Homo sapiens: one gene and its partners. The protein of the gene in region 5 interacts with the protein of the main gene of each other region in a biochemical or structural test. Each region holds a gene or a part of one and is shown on either strand. Other genes may lie near its edges.

Region 1 (3,500 bases), on a different chromosome or scaffold from region 5:
AGGGTACAGATGCACAGCACACCTCAAGTCATGCATCCCTGCTCAGAAGCCTTCAACTGCTCGCCCTTCCAGGGGGAGAATCACACTGAAACATGCTGTGCTGGCATTCAAGACCTTCTATCATCTGGACTTCACTTCCTAGAACTTTTCTGCAGGCAAACTGAACTGCTCAGCAGCCCCTACTTCCCACCCAGTTGCTTCTGTTTACCTCTTTGCCTGAATCACCCTTCACCTCCATCTTTTGGACCAAATTTTACCCAGCATTAAAGACACAACTGAAATATTTCTGGGCCCTTCTCTGTTTTGTCAGCCTACAACTTCTGCCCAAGTTGGAGGACTCTCCAGCATTTACAGTGTATTTCCTTGGCTTTTCTTTTCTTTTTCTTTCTCTCTTTTTTTGAGATGGAGTCTTGTTCTGTCACCCAGGCTGGAGTGCAGTGGTACAATCGTGGCCCATTGCAACCTCTGCCTCCCGGGTTCAAGCGATTCTCCTGCCTCAGCCACCCGAGTAGCTGGGATGGGAAGACCACTTGAGCCCAAGAGTTTGAGACCAGCCTAGGCAACACAGCAAGTCCCCATCTCAAAAAAAAAGGGAAAAAAAAACAATTAATACCACCCCAAAGCCAGATCAGCCATTCATGAAAAATCACAAACTGAATTTTATATATATATATATATCTCTTCAAGTTAGCTTTCATCTACCTCTGATTCTCGTCTGTCTTTATACTAGTCATTAGAACAATGTTGAGTGAAAAATTTAAAAGCCAAAGCTTCATGTGCCCTTAAAATGTCTGCTTGTCCTCTTCACTCCTATCAATGGCACTCCTCCGTCTTAAAGTCTGGGTTGCCAATTCCCAGCGCTAACCATATTCACTCATTTAACTGAGCACCCACTGAGCCCTGGTCTCAGGAAATCATTGTCTAGGTAAAAAGCGAGGCATTTTCATAAGTCACAATGACACCAGACAGAAGGTTTGGAGGTGCTACATCAATGAAACTACATATATGCCAACCAAGATGCACCTGCAATTATATTTAAGAAGATATATCAAGAGGGATAAAGAAGAACAGATTTGGCATCAATTTAGTTCAATCTTTGGCATATGTTACAACGTGCCTATAAATCCTTAGAGGGTAGGGCCTGTGGGTTATTTATGATCATTACATTCCCTGCATGCTTAGCACGGTGTCTTGGGCATAGCAGGGCTTTGACAAATACAGCACTCTGTGCCTCCCAAGCTCTTTTGTAGGCAAGTGAGAGAGAGTGGACTGTAACAGCCACTAACAAGAAGCCGTTTTAATAGATGGAACTCTAAAACGAGGCTGTTTTTGCTGCTTTAAAGGAGACTTAGCCTTATTAAAATCAGGGGATCAGTTATGCCATTCCTGTTGCCCATCTTTGTTCTTTGATAATCTGTGCAATTCTGTAGATGATGGAAGACCATTTAGTACCTGAGAATATCGACTGCTCGTTCCCAGGAAAGGTCTTCAGCAGGCTCATTGTTCATTTGGAGGATCTGATCACCAGGGAAAAGCTTGCCGTGAGCAGAGCCTCCTGTTGGACAGAAAATAAGTAATTGGTGCTCATGCCGGGAGGACCCAGACTCTATGTGTAATAGCGGCACAGTTAAATGGCACCCTGATCCAGTTCCCAGGGGCACTGGCTCACTCCCCCGCCTTCAGTCAGGCTTGGGCTCATGTGGATCTTAATTTTCCTGTTTATAAACCATGGATAATGTACCTATCATCTATCACCAACTTCCAGGGATGTTAGAAGACTGTCCTGAGAAAGAAAACTAGCAGAAACCTTCTAAATCAATAGAGTTGGCCAGTAAATCTACTCCATTCATCTCTAAAAAACTCTGGTGTGTATGTGTAGTAAATAGAAATCAATACATTTTAACGAATCCCAGATTAACACACCTCAATTATGAAAACAAGCACTGGACTTTCCCCACCTGCTCCTCTCCACCCTGGTACAGCCTGTATTTCACAAGGTTCAAATGAAAACAAATCAATGGTTTCTATTACTGTCTGACCAGAAAGTATCCCCAGCTAGGAGCGTGTGGGGTTCAAAGAGGAAGGCTAGCTTAGCCAAATACTTTCACTGCCCCTGAGACCAGCCAGGGAGCCAAGGGTGGGCAACGCCCTAGCCAAGGCCAGTGGGAGCCTGGGGTTTGGAGCGGCAAGTGCACTTGAGGCTTCCTCCCTCCCAGCATCAAAGTAAGGTGCAAAGCCCAAGACAGAATTAGGTGTGCCTTTTCTAACTTCCCAGGTAGGATTTTCTGCATTTTGTTATAGGATAGAGAGATCGGGGAGATTTGGGGCTATTTCCCCTTAAGAAACCAAACTCCTTTCTCATTTCCCAGTCATCCCCTACCTGCTGTGACAGCCACCACTGTAAGGGGAAGGCTCTCAGAAATGTGAAATCCATAGTCCTGGAGGAGGGTGTCTTTGTCTATCTTTACTGTGTGTCGCACAGGGATGAGGGTCTGAGTTGGGTTCCTGGCGGGCCCATCAGCTGCAGCAACTTTAGCCCTGGAAGAGAAGGAGTATGTAAAAAAGAGAAAGAGAAGACTCTAGTTGTTGGTCACGAACTGGGTCAGCCCTAAGCATCATGGAGAAAGATGCAGAACTGAGCAGACACCAATTCTCCTCTTGAGACAAATAAGACACCAACTCCACTAGCAGAACTTAGGACTGTCCTCTAAAAGAGAAGTCGTATTGCCAGGCATTCTTAATGAGCTAATGCTAAATATCTAGAAAGCGCCCAGGAAGTGCTATGGACACACAGAGAAGGGGGAGAGCAGTTTCACCTTTGTAGGGCAGGGAATAGGGAATCAGGGACGCATCTGGTACTTGGAAGAGGTGGCATTTGAGCTGCACTCTGAGACATGTCTAGGGTATACCTATACAGCCCAGATCCTGGCACACAGAAGATATTCAATAACTGCTGCTGAGTGAATCAATGAATGAATGGATGGATGGATGGATGGATGGATGGATGGATGGATGGACGGACTGACAGAAGAACAGGCAGATGGGCATCCCAGGCAGGACATACTGCTGGAGTCAGAGGTACAGGAGAGGAAAAACATGGATGGTGAGCAGAAACAAGGAGTTGTCAGGTTCAGATGTTTGATGACGGATAATTTTATAGCAAGATTTTGTCTTTGGTGATGTTTTTCTTTGTTTCTTTATGATGAATTTTGCTTCCCTTTAAGCTTTGTAACTGCAAGGTTTCCAATATAAAATCTCAGATAGCAAGGACTCCCTCTATATCAACTTTTAAAACATGTATGTTCCTTAAAAGCAGGAAAGTAATATTTTCTATCTCTCAAAGAGAGAAACCACAAAGCGAGTCACAAGTTATTTGTCATTCACCTGTGGCAAATGATTTTTCCCTCTAACAGTCAGTGGTTCTTTCTGAGGAAGGTCAAATAGTGATGGGATGAGGTGTTTATTGTCATTATGAACAACAGAAATGTGAAGGAGTAATA
Region 2 (3,500 bases), on a different chromosome or scaffold from region 5:
TATGGATAGTGCTGCAGTGAACACATGCATGCATGTGTCTTTAATGTTTTTTTAATGCTTTGTCTAGTGCATGACACACAGTGGTCAGTAAGTGTTCATTAAATGACTGAGCAAACTGATAGATATCATAATAATATAATGGAATGTTTTTATATTTATTTATTTATGACATAGGGTCTTACTTTGTCACCGAGGCTGGAGTGCAGTGGCACGATCTTGGCTCACTGCAGCCTTGACCTCCTGAGTACAAGTGATCCTCTTGTCTCAGCCCCTCAAGTAGCTGGGACTACAGGTGTGTGTCACCACACCTGATTAATGTTTTTATTAGCCATATTTTTCATAGAGACGGGGTTTCACCATGTTGCCCAGGCTGGTCTCCAACTCCTGAGCTCAAGTTATTCACCCACCTCGGCCTCCTAAAGTGCTGGGATTACAGGCGTGAGCCACCACACCCAATGTACTTATTTATTTTTGAGACAGGGTCTTGCTCTGTCCCCCAGTCTGGAGTACAGTGGCACTATGACAGTTCACTGCAGCCTCGACCTCTTGGGCTCAGGTGGTCCTCCTGCCTCAGCTTCCTGAGTAGCTGGGACTACAGACATGCACCACCACACTTGACTAATTTTTTTTTTTTTTAATTATTTGTAGAGACGAGATCTCACTATGTTGCCCAGTCATGCCTTGGACTCCTGGGCTCAAGTGATCCTCCACCTCAGCCTCCCACAGTGCTGCGATTCCAGGCATGAGCCACTGTGCCTGCCATAATGGGATGTTTTAAATAAAGAGAAGCAGTAACATGATCTGTTTCAGCTTTCAAAAAGTGGTAAACATGGTTCTTCACTAAATACAATTTGAGAAAGAGAGAATGAGGATGGACACATTGTATTATGATGGATAGGAAACTGGCTAAGATATCAGAAACAAGGAGAAGGAGTAGATGGAACACCTCTTGGAGAGAGTCAGGTAAATGGAACAGTTCTCTAAAGATTGCTTCAAGGATCAGTATTAAGATCTTTTCAAAACAATACTAAAGAAAAACTGTACAGTAAAATATCTAGGAATTACTTTGGGGAAATAGAAAGGCAAGCTGATAGATGTTCAACTGCAGAAACATTTTGCGAAGCCATGTGACTAGCCAGAAAAGTGGTCAATGATTACATGTGATAAGTACACAATTATTTATTGAGGGAAAAATAGCCAAACTATACTTAGATGATAGGGTCAGAACTGCTGGTTTCAGAAGACTGAAAAGTAAAGTAAAACTATTTTTTAAAATTTATTTAGCATTTATTATGTGCCTACACTATGATTAGGAATCATGGACACTAGAATAAAGAATAAGAAATGATCCCCATTTTTAAGAATTTTGCAGTTCAAGCCAGGCATTGTGGCTCTTGCCTGTAATCCGAGCACTTTGGGAGATCAAGGAGGAGGACTGCTTGAGGCCAGAAGTTCAAGACCAGCCTGGGCAACATAGCAAGACTCCCATCTCTGCCAACAAAACAAAGCAAAACAAAACAAAACATTAGCTGTGTTTGGTGGTGCATGCTTGTAGTCCTAGCTACTTGGGAGGCTGAAGTGGAAGAATTGCTTGAGCCCAGGAGTTCGAGGTTGTTGTAGTCCTAGCTACTTGGGAGGCTGAGGCAGGAGAATTGCTTGAACCTAGGAGGTGAAGGTTGCAGTGACCTGAGATCGTACCACTGCATTCCAGCCTGGGCGATACAGCGAGACTCAGTCTCAAAAAAGAAAAAGTGCCAGAATGCTTGAGTTCAAATCCTTACTCTATCACTCACTCACTGTGTGACCTTGTGCAAGTCACCTCACTTCTATCTGCCCCAGTTTCCTCAGCTATAATATGAGAGTATTATTAGAATCTACTTATAGAGTTGTGAGGATTCAATGATTTTTTTTTTTTTTGAGACGGAGTTTTGTTCTTGTTGCCCAGGCTGGAGTGCAGTGGCGCAGTCTCAGCACACTGCAACCTCTGCCTCCCGGGTTCAAGCGATTCTCCCGCCTCAGCCTCCCAAGTAGCTGGGATTACAGGCGCCCGCTACCACACCTGGCTAATTTTTCTGTATTTTTAGTAGAGATGGGGTTTCACCATGTTGGCCAGGCTGGTTTCTAACTCCTGATCTCAGGTGATCCACCCATCTCGGCCTCCCAAAGTGTTGGGATTACAGGTATAAGCCACCACGCCTGTCCGATTTTTGTTTTATAAATAATTTGTAGTGACGATTCTGTACTGTCTTAAGCACTTTACCACAAAACAACTCATTTAATTCATTGAAGTGCTTTAAGGATACTGCTATGTGGGGAGTAGACTTTATGGGGCAAGAATTGAGTCATCTAGGAAGGGTAGGGTAAGCTGTGTCAGTAATTTCAGGGATATGGGGCTTCTGTTTCTCTTTTTCCCTCCTTTTATGCCTTAGTTTATAAAAAAACCCTATTACTGCAATAGTCCTTCCCCCTCCTCCAAAAAAAAAAAAAACCTGTTAGAAGCTCCCAGAAACATTTTTAACCTTGTGAGATTTCCCTAGAACTGGAAATGTTAGAAATTCCTGACCTAGGTGTAATTTTCAATTCCAATAATAGTCAATTGACACCAGTTGGGCTTTGTGTATGTACTAGGTACTATATTGGCACAGGAGGTACAAAAATGAATATAAGCTAATTACATTGTCTTCTAGGAACGAATATTGCAATAGGGTAATGAGACAATTAAACAAGTAATTTCATGTTTTCAGGCAAAGGGAAGAAGACATCCAAAGTCACGGAGATAAGCAGTAGCTGTGGGCGGGGATGATAGGGTGAAAAGCGATAGCAAATATTAAATTTTGTTTACTGTATAATGCAAAGTAGAGAATGTCCAAAGATGGCTAGAAAGGTAGATTATGGTGATTTTGAGTTTAAACTTCATCTTCTATGTTTTTTTTTTTACTTTGATTTTATCTTGGGGATATACTTAGAATTTATTTAAAAATCATTTTATCATATTTGCATAGGAAATAGTAGAAAAAGTCTACTGTAAGGAGGATACTATAACAAATTTTTTTTTTGCTTAATTAACACAAAATTGGTGCTTTGAGAAACTTTAGCCTTTTATTATTGACTAAGTTGGTGCAGAAGTAATTGTGGTTTTTGCCATTTTTTTTTTTTTTTTTGAGACGGAGTCTCGCTCTGTTGCCCAGGCTGGAGTGCAGTGGCACAATCTCGGCTCACTGCAAGCTCCGCCTCCCAGGAGATCACGCCATTCTCCTGCCTCAGCCTCCCAAGTAGCTGGGACTACAGGCGCCTGCCACTATGCCTGGCTAATTTTTTGTATTTTTAGTAGAGACATGGTTTCACCATGTTAGTCAGGATGGTTGTGATCTTCTGACTTCATGATCCACCTGCCTCGGCCTCCCAAAGTGCTAGGAGTACAGGTGTGAGCCACCGCACCTGGCCGGTTTTTGCCATTTTTTATAGCAAAAACTGCAATTACTTTTGCACCAACCTAATAA
Region 3 (3,500 bases), on a different chromosome or scaffold from region 5:
TAGATTCAACAGCTAGGAAATTTTTGTTAATTGTCCTAAAGAGGGGCTGGCAAAGAGAGGTCTCTCTCTATCCCTCCTCATCTGGCCAGGCCCGCCTACAGTCATTGCAGCTGAGGCCATTTAGCTGAGCTTGTCCTCTCTCCAGCAGCCACGTGGGACTCAAGCCTGGGAGCAACTAGCACTCTCTCCAGACTCTAAGCAAAGAGAAATGCCAGCCCTGGGGGCCAAATACATGGGGGTTGTCCAATGTCAAGGGTGTCCTCACACATGGAAAAGGCAGGCTCTCTCTGACCCCAATCCCTCGTGGTCCCTATTCCTCCCTATTCCTTTTCTGTTGCTGTGTCATTTACCTCTTCTCTTTCTTTTTTCTTCTTTTTTTTTTTTAGAGTCTCACTCTGTCACCCAGGCTGGAGTGCAGTGGTGCAGTATCGGCTCACTGCGACCTCTGCCTCTCAGGTTCAAGCGATTCTCCTGCCTCAGCCTCCTGAGTAGCTGAGACTACAGGTGTGCACCAGCCCACCCAGTTAATTTTTGTATTTTTAGTAGAGACAGGTTTTCACCATGTTGGCCAGGCTGATCTCGAACTCCTGACCTCAAGTAATCTGCCCACCTCGGCCTCCAAAAGTGCTGGGATTACAGGTGTGAGCCACCACGCCCAGCTCTCTTCTCTTTTTTTAAGGTGTATGTATATGGAGGGACATATGTGTGACTATGGGTATGTGTCTGACATGTGTTTGTCTACAAGATGGACATACATGTGTTTATAACAGGGAACAGCATGCATGTTGTACGGTTTTCCTGTGAACTAATACTTAGTTACAATAGCTACCACTTACTGAGGCCTTACTGTGTGCTAGGCAGTGCTTACATGCTTTGCATGAATGATCTCATTCAATCCTTGTGACAACCCCATGTGATAGAACTACTTTTATAAAACCCATTTAAGATGATGGAATGAGGTTCAGAGAGAGTAAGTGCCTTGCCAAAGGTTACACTGACAATGATTGAAGAAACCAGGACTTCGGTGCATCTGATTCAGAGCCCATGTTCTTAGGCAGGATAAAGACCTCAGCCATGAGCAGTGATGGCCCTTGGCTCCCCTGGTCCCAGGTCACTAGGTAGTGAGTTGGTCGTTTTCCTTTTCTTTCAATCATGTGCATGCTGGATGTTCTGTTCTTCACCTGTCTTCTACATCTCTCACAGTTTTTCTCTGATCCTCTATCCTGGCCTGCATCCATAGCTGTCATGACCCCAATCCCTGGGATCTATCTGTAAGGCATTTCCAAAGAGATGCAATGACGAGAGCCAGAACTCTAGCTAGAGCTGAGCAGCTGCTCCCTGCTGTAACATCATTGCTCCTCTGACCCTATCTAAAGAACCTTTGGTACATCCACTGCCCTGACATACCTCAGTGACTCTGACACCTATTTGGGAAGACACAATGTTACCTACTGGCCCTTGTTGGACAAGAGAAGGGGGTGGAAAGAGGGAGAAGGAATCGGTCATTACCTGCAGTCTGTGGGGGTGGTGGGTGTGGTCCATCCTCGGATGCAGCCAGGGCTTCTAGAGCCTGCAGAGTGGACACCAGGGCATCATCTAGCTCCTGGGCATGATCTCGAACTGTCCGGGTCTGCACACTGTCAATCAATGTCACTGGAATCTCATCGTACAGAAGCCCACGCAGGTGGCGTCCTTGTTCCTGGCTCTGGACAGCCCGGCGCTTGGGGTCATCCTCATCAGAGCTGTTGTCTCGGAAACCAGGGGGTGGGGCAGCAATGGCTGGCAACAGAGAAGTTGTCTCATCTTCCTCCTCCTCCTCCTCCTCACTCCCAGGTGGTGGGAGGGACATCAAATCTACTATATTGTCACGAGAGGAGCCAGGCTTCCCACCTTTGCGAGGGCCCAGCTGCTCCTGAAGTTTGGCTTTGCAAGAGTCACAGTAGAAATTCAGGGCTTCAGCCCCAAGGGAATTGTCCAAGGTGTAGGACCGGGCCCTGCTGGCACAAGGCTCGTGGTCTAGGCTAGCTGCATCAAAGTCATCAGGGACTACCTCATAACCTTGGCCAGAGCTTTTGGATGTGGGGTCAGACTTGGTTCGGGGCCTGGTCTCCTCAAAGAAGATTAGGTTCTCGTTGACATCTGTCCGGCTTTCCTGCTCCTTCCTTTGTTCCCGCATATGGAGGTAGCAGAAGCTGACAAGCTCAGAGTCGGCAGGTGGGGGCGTGCAGCGGCTCGATTTCCTGGGGCTGGTGCCCACGCTGCCCACATAACTACTCTCCTTTTTCCCCAGGTGGCCCCCAGTGACAGGGCGGTGGGCGCTGTGCATGTAATCTAAACCCAGAAAGAGAATCAACAGATGAGCCCTGGTGCCAAGGATTGTGAATGAGCTCCCTTGTTGTCTCTGGCCCATGTCTCTGTAGCACAATCAAGTGGCAGGTCCCAAGACAAAGCATTACCTGGCTGCCAAAGATTAGAGGTAGGGAAGTTGATGAGCTATGTTACTGCTGACCCTGAAAGTAGAGTGAATAGAGTCTAATAACCTGAGCTGCTAATAGCCCCATCACCTCTGAAATGGGAAAAGGCATGGGGTATGGTAGGGGTCGGGGTGAACACCCTGGTTTAGGGCCTGGTATCTGGGCACAGCTGGACTCTTACATGGATACCCTCTATCTGAAAGTCAGCTGTAAACGTATGTCCCACTTGGAACTGTTCCTACCCCTGTCCCCACCCCTTTTCAGAGCTTTTCCACCAGTGCTCTGTTGTTCTTGTTATCTTGAATCTCTTCTAGCAGAAGGAAATAAATCTGACAAGTTACTAATGCTTTAGTCAGAACCTGTTAAACAGGCTACATATAATGCCGAAGAGTTTGCATTTCAAAGAGGCCTGTTGATGGAGGGATCCTAAAAGAATAAGGCTCTATATTAGAATTCCGGGGTCTGAATGTGTAAAGTATATGGGAGATATGCTGGGATGTGCATATGTGGGAGGAGGGCAGGGGAAGCATTCTTATAATTCTTCAAATTTTATTCTTTTCTGCATTCATGCAGGGCCAGCCCTACCTGCTACACATACATATGGCAAATGCTCTCGTCAACCGCTCTTAATGATGGTAGGTGTGTGCATCTGAGAATTATCTATAGCAAATGCTTTATCTGTGAATACCTTCTCTCACTGTTTTTGGAGCTCTTCCCCATTTTATCTGTGAGAATATACTCGGACAGCAGACAGACAGATAACAAACAAGCACTAACTTAGGCTAAGGTCCTAATATACATGATCCTACTTATTCTTCATAACAACCCAATGAGGTAGTTATTATCATTATTCACATTTTAAGGATAAAGAAACTGACTCACCTAAGGTTACATAGACCAAGTGGTAGACTGGATTTCCGCCTAGGTCTGAAAGACTTCAAAACCCATGTTTTTAGCCATTACCCTTATAACTCATCATGGTGGTCAAGATGCTGGAAAACAAGCCTTCAAAATGCCACTCAAACT
Region 4 (3,500 bases), on a different chromosome or scaffold from region 5:
TTCAGTTTATTTGCCCAAAGTTGACAGTCATCTCATGTTAGTCCAATTAAATTGTTGATCTGTGTTTCAGTTATTCATTGCTGAGAAACTAACCACCCCAGACACACTGACATAAAACAACAAGCATTTGTTGATTCTGTGAGTCAGGATGCAGACAGGATGAAACAGGGATGGCTTGTCTCTGCTATCTTTATGTGTGCCACAGCTGGGAAGGAGCTGAAAGCCAGGGACTGCAACAGTTGTAACTGGAGAGTCTACTTCCAAGATGGTTTCTTCATTCACATTTCTGACACCTTGATGGGAATGACTAGGTGCGTGGGACTTGTCAGCTGGAGAGGCTACAGGTAGCCTTCCCAGCATGACAGCCTCAGGGTATTTAAAGTTCTTACATAAGTGGTTCAGTGTCTAGTAGGCTGCATGGCCTCATATGATCTAGCCTTGAAGTTGCCTGGCATCCCTTCTCTGTTGGAAGCAGTCATAAACCCACCCATATCCAAGGAAAAGGGGACATAGGTTTCACCTTGTGATGGGAAGTCAAAAAAATTTGCAGCCATGTTCTAAAACCAACATAAACTAGCAAGAAGAATGATGTTATGCGGCGCAGAATATGATTACTACGACTGTTTGCGGCTTCTCGGTATACAAATCTCACTTGTTTGTTAGAAATTGGTAAGTCTGTAAGTTTCATTGAAATTCATAAGATTTTAGCATCAGCAACAAAGAGTCATTGTATAAAAGTTGCATGGCTGTCATGTGCCTTTGCTCTTGAGCTTTTAGGGTTTACAGGAATCTCTTAATTATTGGTAGAAATAGAGCATTAGCAGTAGTTTGCATAAATTTGATAATTTCACATTTAAGATCACCTTCCTATTTGAATGAAATCCTGCCCTTAACAAATGTGTTTTGATTTGAGAAGAGCAAACATTTTTCTCCTACAGATAAAATATTTATGAAAGATGAACATGTTTAAATAAAACTGCTATTTTTAACTGATTATGTATTAGTGAAATGAAGAATTTTAAGAGACATGGACAGTCTCTATCTTTGAACAGAGAAATAAAGCCTTTGAAAAATATTCTACATGTTGTACTAAATATGTAACATTTTGATTGTTTCTTTGAAATTCTGCCAAGCAACATCAGCTATATAGCATTCCTCCTACGCTCTACCACTCATCTCCAACCCACCCTTAACGATTTAACATTTAAGCCTTTGGTAATTGTAAGTGCTAGTTGTTGTTGTTGTTTTTAAATTGTGTGTTTGTGCCCTAGTTTATGGCAAGGTTCAGAATTACTTTTCCTCTTAAAAATTACAGTTTAATGCCATTATAAAAAGTTTACAATAGAAAACCTTTAAAGAAGCCTCTTTCCTTGCTGAGAACTTTTCTTGTTCATGAGATGGTTATGAAACCTTAAGTTCAAGTTTGTTCAGCCTGTGCCACATGCAGCCCAGGAAGGCTTTTGGGATTATTTTTTTTTTAAGCTTATCAGCTATCATTGATGTTAGTGTATTTTATGTGTGGACCAAGACAATTATTCTTCTTCCCGTGTGGCCCAGGGAAGCCAAAAGATTGGACAACCCTGCTTTAGATGATGGTCCAGGAAAAACTAAATAGAAAAAAAAGGGATCAGGATAGGCTGAGGCATGATTGCACTTTTAAATTCACACTTTAACTTGGAGGGAAGTTTGTGTTTAGCACATTCTTATCAGTATTGTTTTTTCATGTATGGTGTGAAAAAGCAGATATATGTATTTGCAAATCATGTGTATTCTAGTATCCAGAATATATAAAGAACTCTTAGAAATGAAAAGATAAATCCAATTTTAAATGGGCAAAGGATTTGAATAGATAGTTCTCCAAAGATACTCAAGTGGCCAGTAAGCACATGACATGCTCAACATCATTAGTTCATTTTTATATTGGATTATTTGTCTTTTTGCTAAGTTGTAAGAATTTTCTATGTATTCTGGATACTAGACCCTTACCAGATATATGATTTGCATATATTTTCTCCCATTCTGTCAGTTGTCTTTTCACTTTCCTACATCCTTTAAAGAACAAATATCTAATTTTTATGAAGTTCATTGTTGTTTGCTTATGCTTTTGGTGTCATATCTAAGAAAACATTGCCCAATTCAAGGTCACAAAAATTTACATGTACGTTTTCTTCTAAGAGTTTTCTAGTTTTCTCTCTTATAATTCAGTTTTTGATCCATTTGGAATTAATTGCAATGAGAAATCATAATGTGTATTGTTCAATCCTTTAAATTTTATTGAGGCCTTTCTTTTCTTTTTTTTTTTCTGGAGATAGCATCTCGCTCTGTCACCCAGGCTAGAGTGAAGCAGTGCAATCTTGGCTCACTGCAGCCTCCACCTGCTGGGTTCAAGTGACTCTTGTGCCTCAGCATCCGAGTAGCTGGGACTACAGGCGCACTCCACCATGCCCAACTAATTTTTTTTTTTTTTGTGCTTTTAGTAGAGACGGGGTCTTGCCATATTGCACCAGGCTTGTCTCAAACTCCTGAGCTCAGGTGATCCTCCACCTAGGTCTCCCGAAGAGCTAGGATTACAGGCGTGAGCCACCATGCCCAGCCTTGAGGCCTTTTTTAAAATGGCCTAGCACATGGCCTGTCTTGGAAAATGTCCTGTGTGTACTTGGGAATAATGTAAATTCTGCTGTTAATGGATGGAGTGCTCCATATGTCTATTGGGTCTAATTGGTCTATAGTGTTAAAGGGTCTATTTTCTGGTTCCATGTCTAGTTGTTCTGTTAGTATTGAAAGTCGAGTATCAAAAGCTTTATTGTTGATTTGTCTATTTCTCTCTTTGTCATTTTTTACTTACGTATTTTGGGGCCATTGTTTGGTACAATTTCTGTTTATAATTGTCATATCTTGTTATGTTTTTCTGTCTTTTGCTTTATTTATGTCTTTGAATCTGAAGTGTGTCTGTTGTAGACAGTTGGATTATGTTTCTTGTAGCCCATTCTGCCAGTCACTGACTTTTTATTGGGATGTTTCATTCATGTAATTTAATGTAATTACTGATAAGGTAGGCTTTACATTTGCCATTTTGCTGTTTGTTTCTATATGTCTTATTTCTTTTTTCCTCCATTTCTTCCATTTGTGTTAAATATTTTTAATATGCTATTTTAATTCCCGTGTCATTTCTCTTAATTAAAATTATTTTCTTAGTGGTTACCCTGGGGCTTACAATTAACATCCTAGTTTATAGCAGTCTATTTTAAATGAATACCAGCTTCATTTTCACTAATGAATTAGTCAGGGATCTGTAAGGAAATAGAACCAATATATGAGGAGTTGGCTGACATGATTAAGGAGTCTGAAAAATTACACGTTCTGCTCTCTGCACGCTGGCAACCCAGGGAAGTCAGTAGCATAATTCAGACCTTCTCAGTCAGAAGGTCTGAGAACTAGGAGAGCCAGTGATCCCAGTCTGAGGGCAGGAGATGAGATGTCACAACTCAAGCAGTAAGGCA
Region 5 (4,041 bases):
AGTGGTTGGGTGTGAGGGTGGATGGCTGTATGGAGGAAGGATGGATGAGTGGATGAATGGGTGAATGGATGAGTGGATGAATGGATAATAGGATGGAAAGATGGATGGATGGATGGATGGATGAATGGATGGATGGATGGATGGTTGGATAGATGGATGGATAAGTGTGAAAGTAGATGATTGGATGGATGGATGAACAGAAGGGTAGATGGGTGGGTGACTGAGCGGATGGGTAGATGAATGAATGGAGGGATAGATGGGTGAATGGGTGGATGGATGGATGGATGGGTGGATGGATGGGTAATGGGTGGGTGGATGGATGGATAGACGAATGGGATGGATGGATGGGCAGATGATTGGGTGGATGGATGGGTGAGTGAATGAGTGGATGGGTGAGTGAAGAAGTGAATGGATAGAGGGATGGCTGGGTGGATGGGTGGGTATATGGTTGAGTGGGTGGATGAACAGATTAATGGATGAATGGGTGACGGGTGCATGGATGGATGGATGGATGGAATGTTGGGTGATGGATGGGTGGAGTGAATGAGTGGATGAGTGGATGGGTGGATAGATGGACAGGTGGATGAGTGTATGGGTGGGTAAAGAAATGAATGGATAGAGGGATGGAAGGGTGGATGGATGGACAGATGGGTGAATGGATGGGTGGGTGGATGGGTGGGTAGATGGATAGATGGATGGGTGGATGGGTGGATGGATGGGTGGGTAGATGGATAGATGGATGGGTGGATGAGTGTGAGGGTGGGTGATGAGTGGGTAGATGGATGGATAGGGTGTTTGGGCAAGTAGGATAGATGACTAGATGGATGAGCAGGTGGGCACATGGCTAACTACATGGATGGGCACACATCAGTAATTTGCCAGAGATTTGCCTTGGGTACACATACATCCTACATGGTCCCTGCAATCCCAAAGATGCAATTTCCCCACCTGTCAAAGGGATCCCCCTGCCTTCCTATCCAGTGTGCCGTGAGAATCAGAGAAGAGGTTGGTGGGAAGGGGCTCTGAGGATCTCCACGGTGAGCCACCTGACATGCTTCTCACCTCCGCACCTCCCAGCCATGGAGTTCATGGGGCCTGCCCTTTCCAAGGTTACAGCCGAGGCTGGTTTGTCACACTGGTTTTTCTGGCTGGAATTAAGGCAACTGTTGGTGAGTCACCCCCACATCATCAGCCTCCTGGGACAGGTGACAGTGGTTTACAGGCACACAGACCTAGATTCAAATCCCAGCTCTGCCCCTCATAAGCTGTGTGACCTTGAGTGAGTCACTTCCCCTCTCTCAGCTTGTTCTGAAATGGGATGGCCTGCCTGGTCTCTAGTGGCCCTTCAGTCCCTCTTCACCCTCCAAGTCCCCCAATCCCCAGCCCCTTCTTCCCCATCCCTCATCATTCTGGGAGCAGAAGCCACAGGCCTACACTTTGCCTCTCTCAGCCATTCCATCCTCAAAACTGATGGGGACACAGAGGTTCAGAGATGGATGGGTGGATGGATGGACGGGTGGATGGATGGACAGGTGGATGAGCTGCAGAGTTTCAGAGAGGTTCTGTCACAAGCCAACATCAAACAGCTGGGGACCTCCACGGCAGGGACTTGGGTCCACCCCCTTCCCCGAGTGAGCCAACACTGTGCTTGGCCCTGCATGCTTGGCAGCTGGCTGCAGTCATCCCGATGCTCACAGCCCTGCCTTGGAGGAGGGACAATTCTCCCCTCTGGACAGATAGGAAAACTGAGGCTGAGAGAAGCTAAGTCACCTGCACAGTCACCTGGAGCTGGAACTCTGAGCAGCGAAGGTCGGATATTGCCACAGGGCCATGGGGAGCCAAGCAGGGGTGGGGGCCAGAAGTGTGGGCAGCAGCATCTATCCACATCCTGCTGGTCACCTGGCTTGCACCAGGCTCTCCCAACCTCGTCCCTCACTCCCTACTACCTGAAAGGGGCATTCCCCAGACCACAAATCCAGCTGGATTTGTTTTTATCTAGGAGGAAGGCAAAATTAGCTCTACTCTACACAGGGGTACTGAGACGTAGAGCAGAGAAGCGAATTTCCTGAAGTCACAGGGCAGGGCAGCACCCTGCAAACAGGAGCCAGCCTTCCGGATGCCCTGGCCAGAGCTCCCGCCACCTGCAGGGGCCACAGCAGCCGCCATGTGAGCTCACCCCGCCAAGTCCCACAAATGCTTCCCGGGGTTATGGTCACAATCCTGGATGGGGAGGTGGGCTGCAGGGGCAGTGCTTCCCCATGACCACGACTGAGGGCCAACAGGCCGGGCTGGCCCACAGCGTCCCGCAGGGGAGGGCAGGGCCTGGGCTGAGGATGGGGCTGAAATCCCCCACGGAACAGGGCAAGGCACTTCCCCTTCCTGAGGCTCAGCTTCCCCTGAAAAATGAGGCTGGTGTCGCCTGCCAGGCCTCTCAGAGGGTGTGCCATGAAATTGAAGGTGGTGACGAAGCTGCAGTCCGGGCACTGGGCCTCGCCCCAGCGGGTCTCTGGGAGGTGGCAGCCGTCACCCTCCCTGGAGAGGCCTGGCAGCCCCCCAGCTGACTGGGGCCTGAAACTCCCCATCTGCAAAATGAGGAGACCCCACACACCTCGGGAGACTGTCACGAGGGTAAGCCAAGCCCTGGCTTCAGTATCTGTCCCACAGAGACGATGCAGCAGTGTGGGTCCTGCAGGCGTTCACTGTGACCGGCGTTCCTGACACCACGTAGGCACTGAAAGCAGAAACAGGCTTCCCAACAGGACGGAAAGCTGACTGTGCCCAAGCCTCCCTGTGGCCTGCTGGATGTCCTCAGAAGCCCCCCTGGCCCGCAAGGAGCCACAAAACGCACAAGGGCAGGATCTGCCTCGCTGTTCCATGCTCGGGATGCGCCCAGCCCACAGAGGATGCTCAGAAAGTGGAAGCTGCAGGAACCTTGAGTGACACTGACCCCTCACATTCTGTGGCGTAAAGATGGGGGCTGGACATATGGACCCCAGAAAGAGGCTGCACCAAGCGGCTAGAAAAGGCAAATGTCCACCCTTAAGCCCTGAGGTGAGGCCAGGTCAGAAGATTCTGGCCCCACAGGGTGGACGACAGTCACACCAAACACCAGGGAATGTTTCTGACGGTATTTTTATCTTGAGAACATCCTTCTTCACAGAGGGTGGGGGCAGGAGGGACAGAGGGTGTCCTTGGCCCCAGGCCCCTGGGAGAAGCAGAGAACAGAGGCCCTGCAGTAGTGCCCTCTGCTGGGGTGGCCATCACAGACACTGCCCCATCCCTGGGCTCCATTAAGTCCCACGAACAGGGGAGACCTGGAGGGTCTTGGGGCCCTTCTAGGACTCCTGGCTCTGCCCCAACTTGCTGTGTGACCTGGAGCAGGGCTCTGTCCCTCTCTGGGTCTCCCTCTTCAAGTCCTCACTGGGCACCGAGGACTTGAAGAGGAAGCATTGGGCGCCTGCCTTCATGGGGCACCCTGCCTCACAGGGCAGACGGTGAGAAGTCAGCAGTCATAAGTCGCTGGGCCCTCTGGAGCCCAGGGGAGGTGTCTAACCCAGTGGCAGGAGGGGTGCTTCCTAGAGGAGTATCTGCCAGTGGGGAGGCAGCAGCGAGCAGCAGGGGTGACAACCCCGCCTGAGACTAACCATAGCACAGTGACACAGCTAAGAGCACCAGAGTCCTGCAGTCTTGGTGCAGATTCCAGCTTCACTCTCCAGGCACTGGGCCTTGGGCAAGACCCACCCTGACTGTGTGCAAACCAGGGGGCTGGCCCAGCTACTCCACAGAAGCCCTGCCAGCCCTCCATTCCAGGATCTAAACTATTCGGGGTTTGTGGGGAAGGTGTGACGAGATGGGCACAGCCTTGACACCATCATATCAGGGAAGCTCAGCGTGTGCAGGCACAGAGGCTGAGGCATCACCCCAGGGGGCCTCAGATGTCATATTAATGAGCCTAGACTTGATCCCAAAGGCAATGGGGAGCCCAAGGGCCATAAGAGAGCTTGAAACTATAAGAGTTCTGGGGCAACAAGGCATGAATTC
Region 6 (3,500 bases), on a different chromosome or scaffold from region 5:
AAGTATTTCTTTGTTTTCAATTTTATTATCAAAGTACATAAGACCAATATTTTATAAGCTGTTTTTTAAAGTACTGGATGTGAAACATGGCTTACATACTAGCAAACACATGCAATTTGAATATTTCACACCTTAATAATTCATGCAAATGGTGAGAGACAGTATATACTTTCATTACCTCTTTTTAGCCTAGAAAGCCACTCAACTACCCTATAGTGGGTTCTGGTTATAATTAATAAAATGCTGAAATACAGGAAATCATTTCCACACCAAAAAAAAAATCATTAAGTAACTATTGTGTAGAAAAATAATCAACCAAATGAATGACGGTTAAAAGTATATACTGTCAACATGAAAAAGTATTAGGGACTGATATTAACAGGATGGACCTTTTGAGCAGCCATACTCATCTGTAATCAAGATTACTTTCATATTAGACAGCAGTAAAAAAAGAAAGTTAGAAAAGTAATTTTAATTTTTAAGGTGCTACAACTGATATTATGTACCCTCCCCTTCTCCCATGCCCAAGTCTGTTTTAAAACATCACATGCTTGTGCAGTTCACTTAATAAAACCAAGAATGTAATATAAAACAGCAAAAGAAAAATTAGTATTATTTTTCAGGTGATCATTGAAAATGTTTCCTTATTTCTTCCGTTCACCAAGTGCTGGTGATAAACAATGACATGACCCAGATCAGTATTGGTGACAAAGAATAAAAATGGAAATAAAGCTAATGATAATTTAGCATTACTGAAAAATATTATTTTAGTGCTCATGTTAAAACCAATTACTAAACAGAAGGTCAAAATACAAGTTTTCCCCCATTTAACTAGATATTTACTTCTTACAAAAAATACATATACATATACATATGTATCATGTACACAAATAATATTTTTATTTTATTAAAATTTTATAAATTAACCTCTACATATATAGTATGATTTTATTTTTCAAGTACAGAATTTTACTTGTCTCTCCCTGATTTTAAAATAACGATCATATAACTTCAGGTTTTTATAACATATCACTCAGAATCCCTCCACCCCTGCAGAGGATGTATTACTCGAGATTACAAAAGAACAAGTAACTTAAAACACTTACGGTAACTACTTTCACTATCGCTGGCATTAGAAGTTACATGCTCTGAAATTGCAGGACAATGAAAAAAAATAAAACAGTGTCATGAGTTTAAAAAGCAAATAATCAAAATGAAATGTTGAGATATAAGCCATATATAACAAAATAATTTTTTAAAAGCATTTTCTTTTTCTTTGAAACGTTTAAGTTTTTCAAATAATAAATATATATTAGCAAAGGAAAACTCCTGTAATTAAGGACAATGCCTTATTTTTGTACAACACAGTTTATGAACAAATCTATTATAAATAGCAAGTAGAATATGACAAAAAGGGCTAAGTGACCCTGAATTAGTCCAAATGTAGACATAAAACTCAAAGGAGAAAATACTGTTGGCACTATTTCAGTTTTTGAAACAGCGTTAACTGGCAAAGGGGACAAACTATATTTAAACAAATAGATGCCCATTTTAATGACGGGATGTCTTTGTAATTAAAAATAAATAGATGATCTTATTTTCAATCCAGCTTTGCTCCTGTTTCTGAAGATGAAAATCCATGTTTCTGAGATCATATAGATAAAGGATTGTAAAGGTCATAAATTCAGATGTCTCAGCTGGAAGGGAAGGCACTGATGGTGGCAATTGCATTTTAAAACCAACTAATATTAGAAGTCATAAATTCAGATGTCTCAGCTGGAAGGGAAGGCACCGATGGTGGCAATTGCATTTTAAAACCAACTAATATTTCTTAGAAACTCTGCTTTGATAAGACTGGCACTGGCTGGCTTTTGCAAAACATAAAAAAGACAATGAGAACAAACACACCCAGCCAGAAACTGCCTGGCCCTCCTTAAAAGTGACTCCATTTCACGACTTTATTGTTTGGTAAAACCATAGGCACTCTTCTCATCCATGTAAATGTCATCTCAAGTTTTCTCTCAATAAATATCTCCCTTCAATTAAACAAAGACTAATACTTTTATTTTTAAAAAATAAAAATAAAACTTTCAATGAGACAGGGAAATCTGAATTTTTATTTTAACTTTTTTTTTTTTTTTTAATTAAAGGGACAGGGCCTCACTCTGTTGCTCAGGTGGGAGTGAGGTGGTATGACTATAGCTCACTGCAGCCTCGCCCTCCTCTCCTGGGCTTCTGTGATCCTCCCATCTTAGCCCAGAGTGGCTGGGACTACAGGTATGTACCACCATGCCCTGCTAAAATTTTGTTTTTTTTTTTTAATAAAAGAGACAAGTCTCAACTATGTTGCCCACACTGGTCTCAAACTCCTGGCCTCAAGGGATCCTCCCATCTCAGCTTCCCAAAGTGCTGGGATTACAGGTGTGAATCACCACACCCAGCTGGAAATTTCATTTTTTTTTTTTTTTTTTTTTTGAGATAGTCTCCCTTTGTTGCCCAGGCTGGAGTGCAGTGGCACGATCTCAGCTCACTGCAACCTCTGCCTCCTAGGTTTAAGCGATTCTATTCTTGTGTCTCAGACACCTGACTACCTGGCACTGCAGGTATATAGCACCATGCCCAACTAATTTTTCTATTTTTAGTAGAGACTGGTTTCACCATGTTGGCCAGGCTGATATTGAACCTCTGAGCTCACGTGATCTGTCTGCCTTGGCCTCCCAAAGTGCTGGGATTACAGGTGTGAGCCACCGCACCTGGCCAAATGGTAGGTTTTTTAAAAGCTCATATTAAAATATTTCTTTCCATGTCACCACATGGGCTTGACAGCAATAATTTAAAATTGGTGTATAATATTCTATTAGATTGATACATTATTTACCTCGCTATTTATTAGATATTTTTATTTGCTTTAAACTGTTTTTCACAAGTATCAACAATTATGAATGTCTTCATTTATATATACCTTTTAACTTTCTGTCCTATTTCCTTAAATTTCATACCCAGAAACACGCCACATTAAAAAAAGAGTTATTCTGTTTACATTAGTATTGGTATTACCCTCTGCAATCTCTAGTTTGTAAACTAAAGAAAAATTAGTTATTGCAATGGGGTGAAGGGAGGGGAGTGTAAGTGGGAGTACAGAAGAAACAGAATTGGCAAATGTTCAGTTGACAATTATGAAAGCTGGATAAACAAATACCTGCAGGGTTTATTTTTACTACTTTTCTACTATTGAATATATCTGATATTTATATAATAAAAAGTTTAAGTTACCAAAATCTCTTCACTGTCTTTTTTTTTTTTTTTTGAGATTTCTCCTACTCACCTCAAACCCTCTAAGACTGCCAAAAGCTACGCCACAATCAAATTCTGCAGGTTCTTTCAAATATCATTTCACTTAGCTCTTCTACAATAAAGCCTCACTACTCAAAGTATGGTCCTTAGAATAGCGTCATCATAATTGTTTGGAATGTTATTAGAAAAATAAAATGTTTTTCTTC
Region 7 (3,500 bases), on a different chromosome or scaffold from region 5:
TTGGGATGACGGACTCTGGGGGTAGATGGACATAAACCGACGTGAGGACCCAGAGGAGGAGCCTCAGCGAACCCCAGCCCCATGCCCATTCTGGCTGTGCTGGGAGTGACCCCGAAAGTCACAGTTCTAATCTCATCCCCCTGCTTCCTCTCAACAGAGGAGGAAACTGAGGCAGAGTGAGCTGACAGATTTGCTCAAAACAACTGACCTGCTCTAGTCAGACCAGAGTCGGGGCTGGAACCAGGCCTCTTGGCTGTCGGCTAGTGTGGCGGGCGGGAAGGGAGCTCCCCACAGCCTAACAACCCAGTGTGAATCTAGCACATATTTCCTGAGCACCTACTATGTGCCAGGCCGTGGCTGGGTATTTTCATGTTTTCATTTCTCTTGGGCATATGCCTCACCTAACCCAAGTACCGCCCCTATAGTGAAAAGATCGTTATCAACTATTTACGGATGGGGAAACAGTGGAGGGAGTGTCCTGTCCAAAGCCACACTGTGTTGAGGTCACAGAAGCAGAATTCTGACCCAAACTGTTGTTCGAGGTTCTTTGCCTAACCCATGCTGAGAAGGAGCTTGGAGTATTTTCAGCTCCCCAACCCCATCCCCACTTGGTCCTGCCCCTCTGCAAAAGTCTCCTGGTGTGGAAACTTCTCCCTCCCGTGCCAAGGCTTCCCTTCCCACTATAAGCTGCAAAGCCCCTGGGAGAAGGGCACTGGGCACAGAGGGGGATGGGGTGGAGCGTTTGCACAGGCGAGGCAGGATAAAGAGAGGAGGGGTGCAGGGCCCTGAAATATGAGGAGGAAGCTTGGGCCACTCACTCACCCGCCACATCGAACTCCACCTCCAGCACGACCTTGTGGGCCAGTGCGGCGTCCCGCAGGAGCTGGTTGGCTTCCTCCATAGTCCCGTCCTCGGTGGCAATGCCATTGATGGACAGGACACGGTCCCCCACCTGCAGCAGCCCACACCTGAACCCAGGGGGCCCGGCAGAGAGAAGAGGCTCCGTGACAGGTCCATTGGGAGACAAGAACGCCATGCAGGGCAGGACTGAACCTGGGTCACACCTCCTGGTCTGGGGTGACTCTCAGCTCTGCCCTGGCCCACCTGTGTATCCTCAGGAATCTGGCTAAGGGCTGGACCTTGCTGGACCTCAGTTTCCCTGTCTGTCCAATGGGGATGATGGCATGGGCCTTACAAGTTGTGTATACAGAGGACTCTGCCTTCAGGCAGACAGGGGTTCAAGCCCTGGGATTCCATGGGTGAGCTGTGTAATCCTGGGCAAGTGAGTCAGCTTCTCTGAGCCTCGGTTTCCTCATCTGTAAAATGGGGCTGGTGCTGGGGCTGATGCAATGGTTAAGTGAGATGCGCTTGTGAAGCTAGGGCTTGGTGCTGTGACTCAGTTTCTCTCAGAGAGTGGCAGGCTCAGTAGGGAGGGGGCAGGAGGCTCACCTCTCAGCCGGACTGTCAGGCTCGATGAAGCACACGAGGGGTGGGGAGGACAGGGTCTCGGTGGCGAAGATGCCGCCCTGGAGCTGGAGGCCAAAGCCGCTGAGGGGGTCTCCACAGAGCACGACCTCCGTGGTCTCCGTGTGCACAATCTGCCCGCCCGGCCCCACCGTGCTGGAGGCTAGCGACACTGTAGGACAGGTGGGCCCAGCATTCAGGTGAGCCGCCCCACGGAGGTCTTCCTGCCAGGGCCTGCCCATCCCGGGGCCCTAGGCACTGGAGCCAGAGTGCAAGGAAGTGGGAGCCCTGACTCAGTCTGGGACCAGACAGATCACAGCTCACTCTGAGCCTTGGCTTCCTCATCTGAACAATGGGATCGTTGATTCCCACCTCGTGGGGTGTGGCAAGGACTAGGGAAGACAGTGGCTGGGATTGACTGTCATGCTGTAAAGCAGGTTCTGGGGGGCAGTGTCATTTTATTGTATTATTGTGCTGTGATCTACTGTAGTATCTACTATATTATGTCACTCTGCTTTTCGGTAAGAGGTTTATTGAGATATAATTTACATACCACAGTAGTCACCTATTTAATGTGTACAATTCAGTGGTTTTTAGTGTATTCACAATTATGCAAACATCACCACGATGCATTTGAGAACATTTCATCACCTCCAGAAGAAACCCTGTTCCCTTCAGCCATCCCCAAAGATCTTCCTATGTCCCTCAGCCCTAGGCAACCGCGAATCTACTTTCATCTCTGCATTTGCCTGTTCTGGGCACTTTATATAAACAGAATCATGCACCATGTGGCCTTTGTGACAGGCTGCTTTCACTTGGCATAATGTTTTCAAGTTCATCCACATTTTGCAGGTGTCAGAATTGCATTCCTTTTTGTGGCTGAATAATATTCCATTGTATGGATACACCACATTTTGTTTATCTATTCATCCATTGGTGGATACTGCGTTCCTTCCACTATTTGGCTACAGTGAATAATGCTACTATGAACATTTGTGTATAAGTTTTTAGGTGGAGATGACACATGTTTTCACTTCTCTTGGGCATATACCTAGGAGTGGAATTGCTGGGTGATATGGCAACTCTATGTTTAACTATTTGATACATAAGGTTATTTAATAAATATTGTTTTACATTCCATATATGAAATATATTTGCATCATTAATATGAATCCTGAAAGTCATTTATTATTTATCAAACAAAATTTATTTGGTATTTCATTACTAATTATATTATTGTGTCATATTATATTATTAAATTATATTGTATATTATACATTACAAAATGTGTAATATGTTATGTTTTTAGGTATATTGTGTTTTTATATGTATTTATTTATTTATTTTGAGACAAAGTCTCACTGTGTCGCCCAGGGTGGAGTGCAGAAGCGCCACCTCGGCTCACTGCAACCTCCGCCTCCCGGGTTCAAGCGATTTTCCCACCTCCAGAGTAGCTAGGATTACAGGCGTGTGCCACCATACAAGGCTAATTTGTTGTATTTTTGGTAGAGATGGAGTTTCGCCATGTTGGTCAGGCTGGTCTCGAACTCCTGGCCTCAAGTGATCTGCCCACCTCGGCCTCCCAAAGTGTGGGGATTACAGGCGTGAGCCACCATGCCTGGCCTATTTGTTTCTTTTCACTACTATGTCCCCATAGTATGTACATTCAGTACTATGCCCCATAATTAATTAATTATAATTAATTAATAAATTACTATCAACAGCAATAATGATAGTACTTTCTTAGTTACACATCCCAGGAAGGAGACAGGCAGAGGAGTCGCAAGAGCCTCCAGTCTCCACATCCCCCACCTACGAACAGCATTTCTGCATCTTTTCATCTACATATTCCCCACTTTGGTGGCCAGGAAAGGTGGTTAGTAGAGATATATTTTCTCTCTCATCTGACTGAAATCTGTTTCCCATTTCCCTTTGGCTGCCAGGGAGTGTAGAACCATATTTAGCTTTTTTCAGACACCAGGTGACCTGTACTCCTCTCTTCTTTCACCTGGTTCTATCTCAAATGGCCCAGTTTG

What was found.
Region 1: the proteins of KCNJ18 (region 5) and FRMPD1 interact in a test that uses a peptide from one of them, tested with the Homo sapiens proteins (one large-scale study listed by IntAct).
Region 2: the proteins of KCNJ18 (region 5) and SYNJ2BP interact in a test that uses a peptide from one of them, tested with the Homo sapiens proteins (one large-scale study listed by IntAct).
Region 3: the proteins of KCNJ18 (region 5) and FRMPD3 interact in a test that uses a peptide from one of them, tested with the Homo sapiens proteins (one large-scale study listed by IntAct).
Region 4: the proteins of KCNJ18 (region 5) and LNX2 interact in a test that uses a peptide from one of them, tested with the Homo sapiens proteins (one large-scale study listed by IntAct).
Region 6: the proteins of KCNJ18 (region 5) and DLG1 interact in a test that uses a peptide from one of them, tested with the Homo sapiens proteins (2 studies listed by IntAct, with this or other methods).
Region 7: the proteins of KCNJ18 (region 5) and GRIP2 interact in a test that uses a peptide from one of them, tested with the Homo sapiens proteins (one large-scale study listed by IntAct).

The regions. Positions count from the first base shown.
Region 1 is NC_000009.12:37,706,454-37,709,953, reverse strand, and holds part of FRMPD1 (FERM and PDZ domain-containing protein 1), read right to left. Parts: intron 2,539-3,500; coding exon 2,381-2,538; intron 1,556-2,380; coding exon 1,453-1,555; intron 1-1,452. UniProt on the Homo sapiens protein: Stabilizes membrane-bound GPSM1, and thereby promotes its interaction with GNAI1.
Region 2 is NC_000014.9:70,407,091-70,410,590, reverse strand, and holds part of SYNJ2BP (synaptojanin-2-binding protein), read left to right. Parts: intron 1-3,500. UniProt on the Homo sapiens protein: Regulates endocytosis of activin type 2 receptor kinases through the Ral/RALBP1-dependent pathway and may be involved in suppression of activin-induced signal transduction.
Region 3 is NC_000023.11:107,596,152-107,599,651, reverse strand, and holds part of FRMPD3 (FERM and PDZ domain-containing protein 3), read right to left. Parts: intron 2,332-3,500; coding exon 1,510-2,331; intron 1-1,509.
Region 4 is NC_000013.11:27,575,530-27,579,029, reverse strand, and holds part of LNX2 (ligand of Numb protein X 2), read left to right. Parts: intron 1-3,500.
Region 5 is NC_000017.11:21,691,282-21,695,322, reverse strand, and holds the start of KCNJ18 (inward rectifier potassium channel 18), read right to left. Parts: upstream 2,801-4,041; 5' UTR 2,609-2,800; intron 1-2,608. UniProt on the Homo sapiens protein: Inward rectifier potassium channels are characterized by a greater tendency to allow potassium to flow into the cell rather than out of it.
Region 6 is NC_000003.12:197,068,113-197,071,612, forward strand, and holds part of DLG1 (disks large homolog 1), read right to left. Parts: intron 1,149-3,500; coding exon 1,107-1,148; intron 426-1,106; coding exon of another isoform or gene 390-425; intron 1-389. UniProt on the Homo sapiens protein: Essential multidomain scaffolding protein required for normal development. Recruits channels, receptors and signaling molecules to discrete plasma membrane domains in polarized cells.
Region 7 is NC_000003.12:14,512,843-14,516,342, forward strand, and holds part of GRIP2 (glutamate receptor-interacting protein 2), read right to left. Parts: intron 1,637-3,500; coding exon 1,450-1,636; intron 969-1,449; coding exon 823-968; intron 16-822; coding exon 1-15.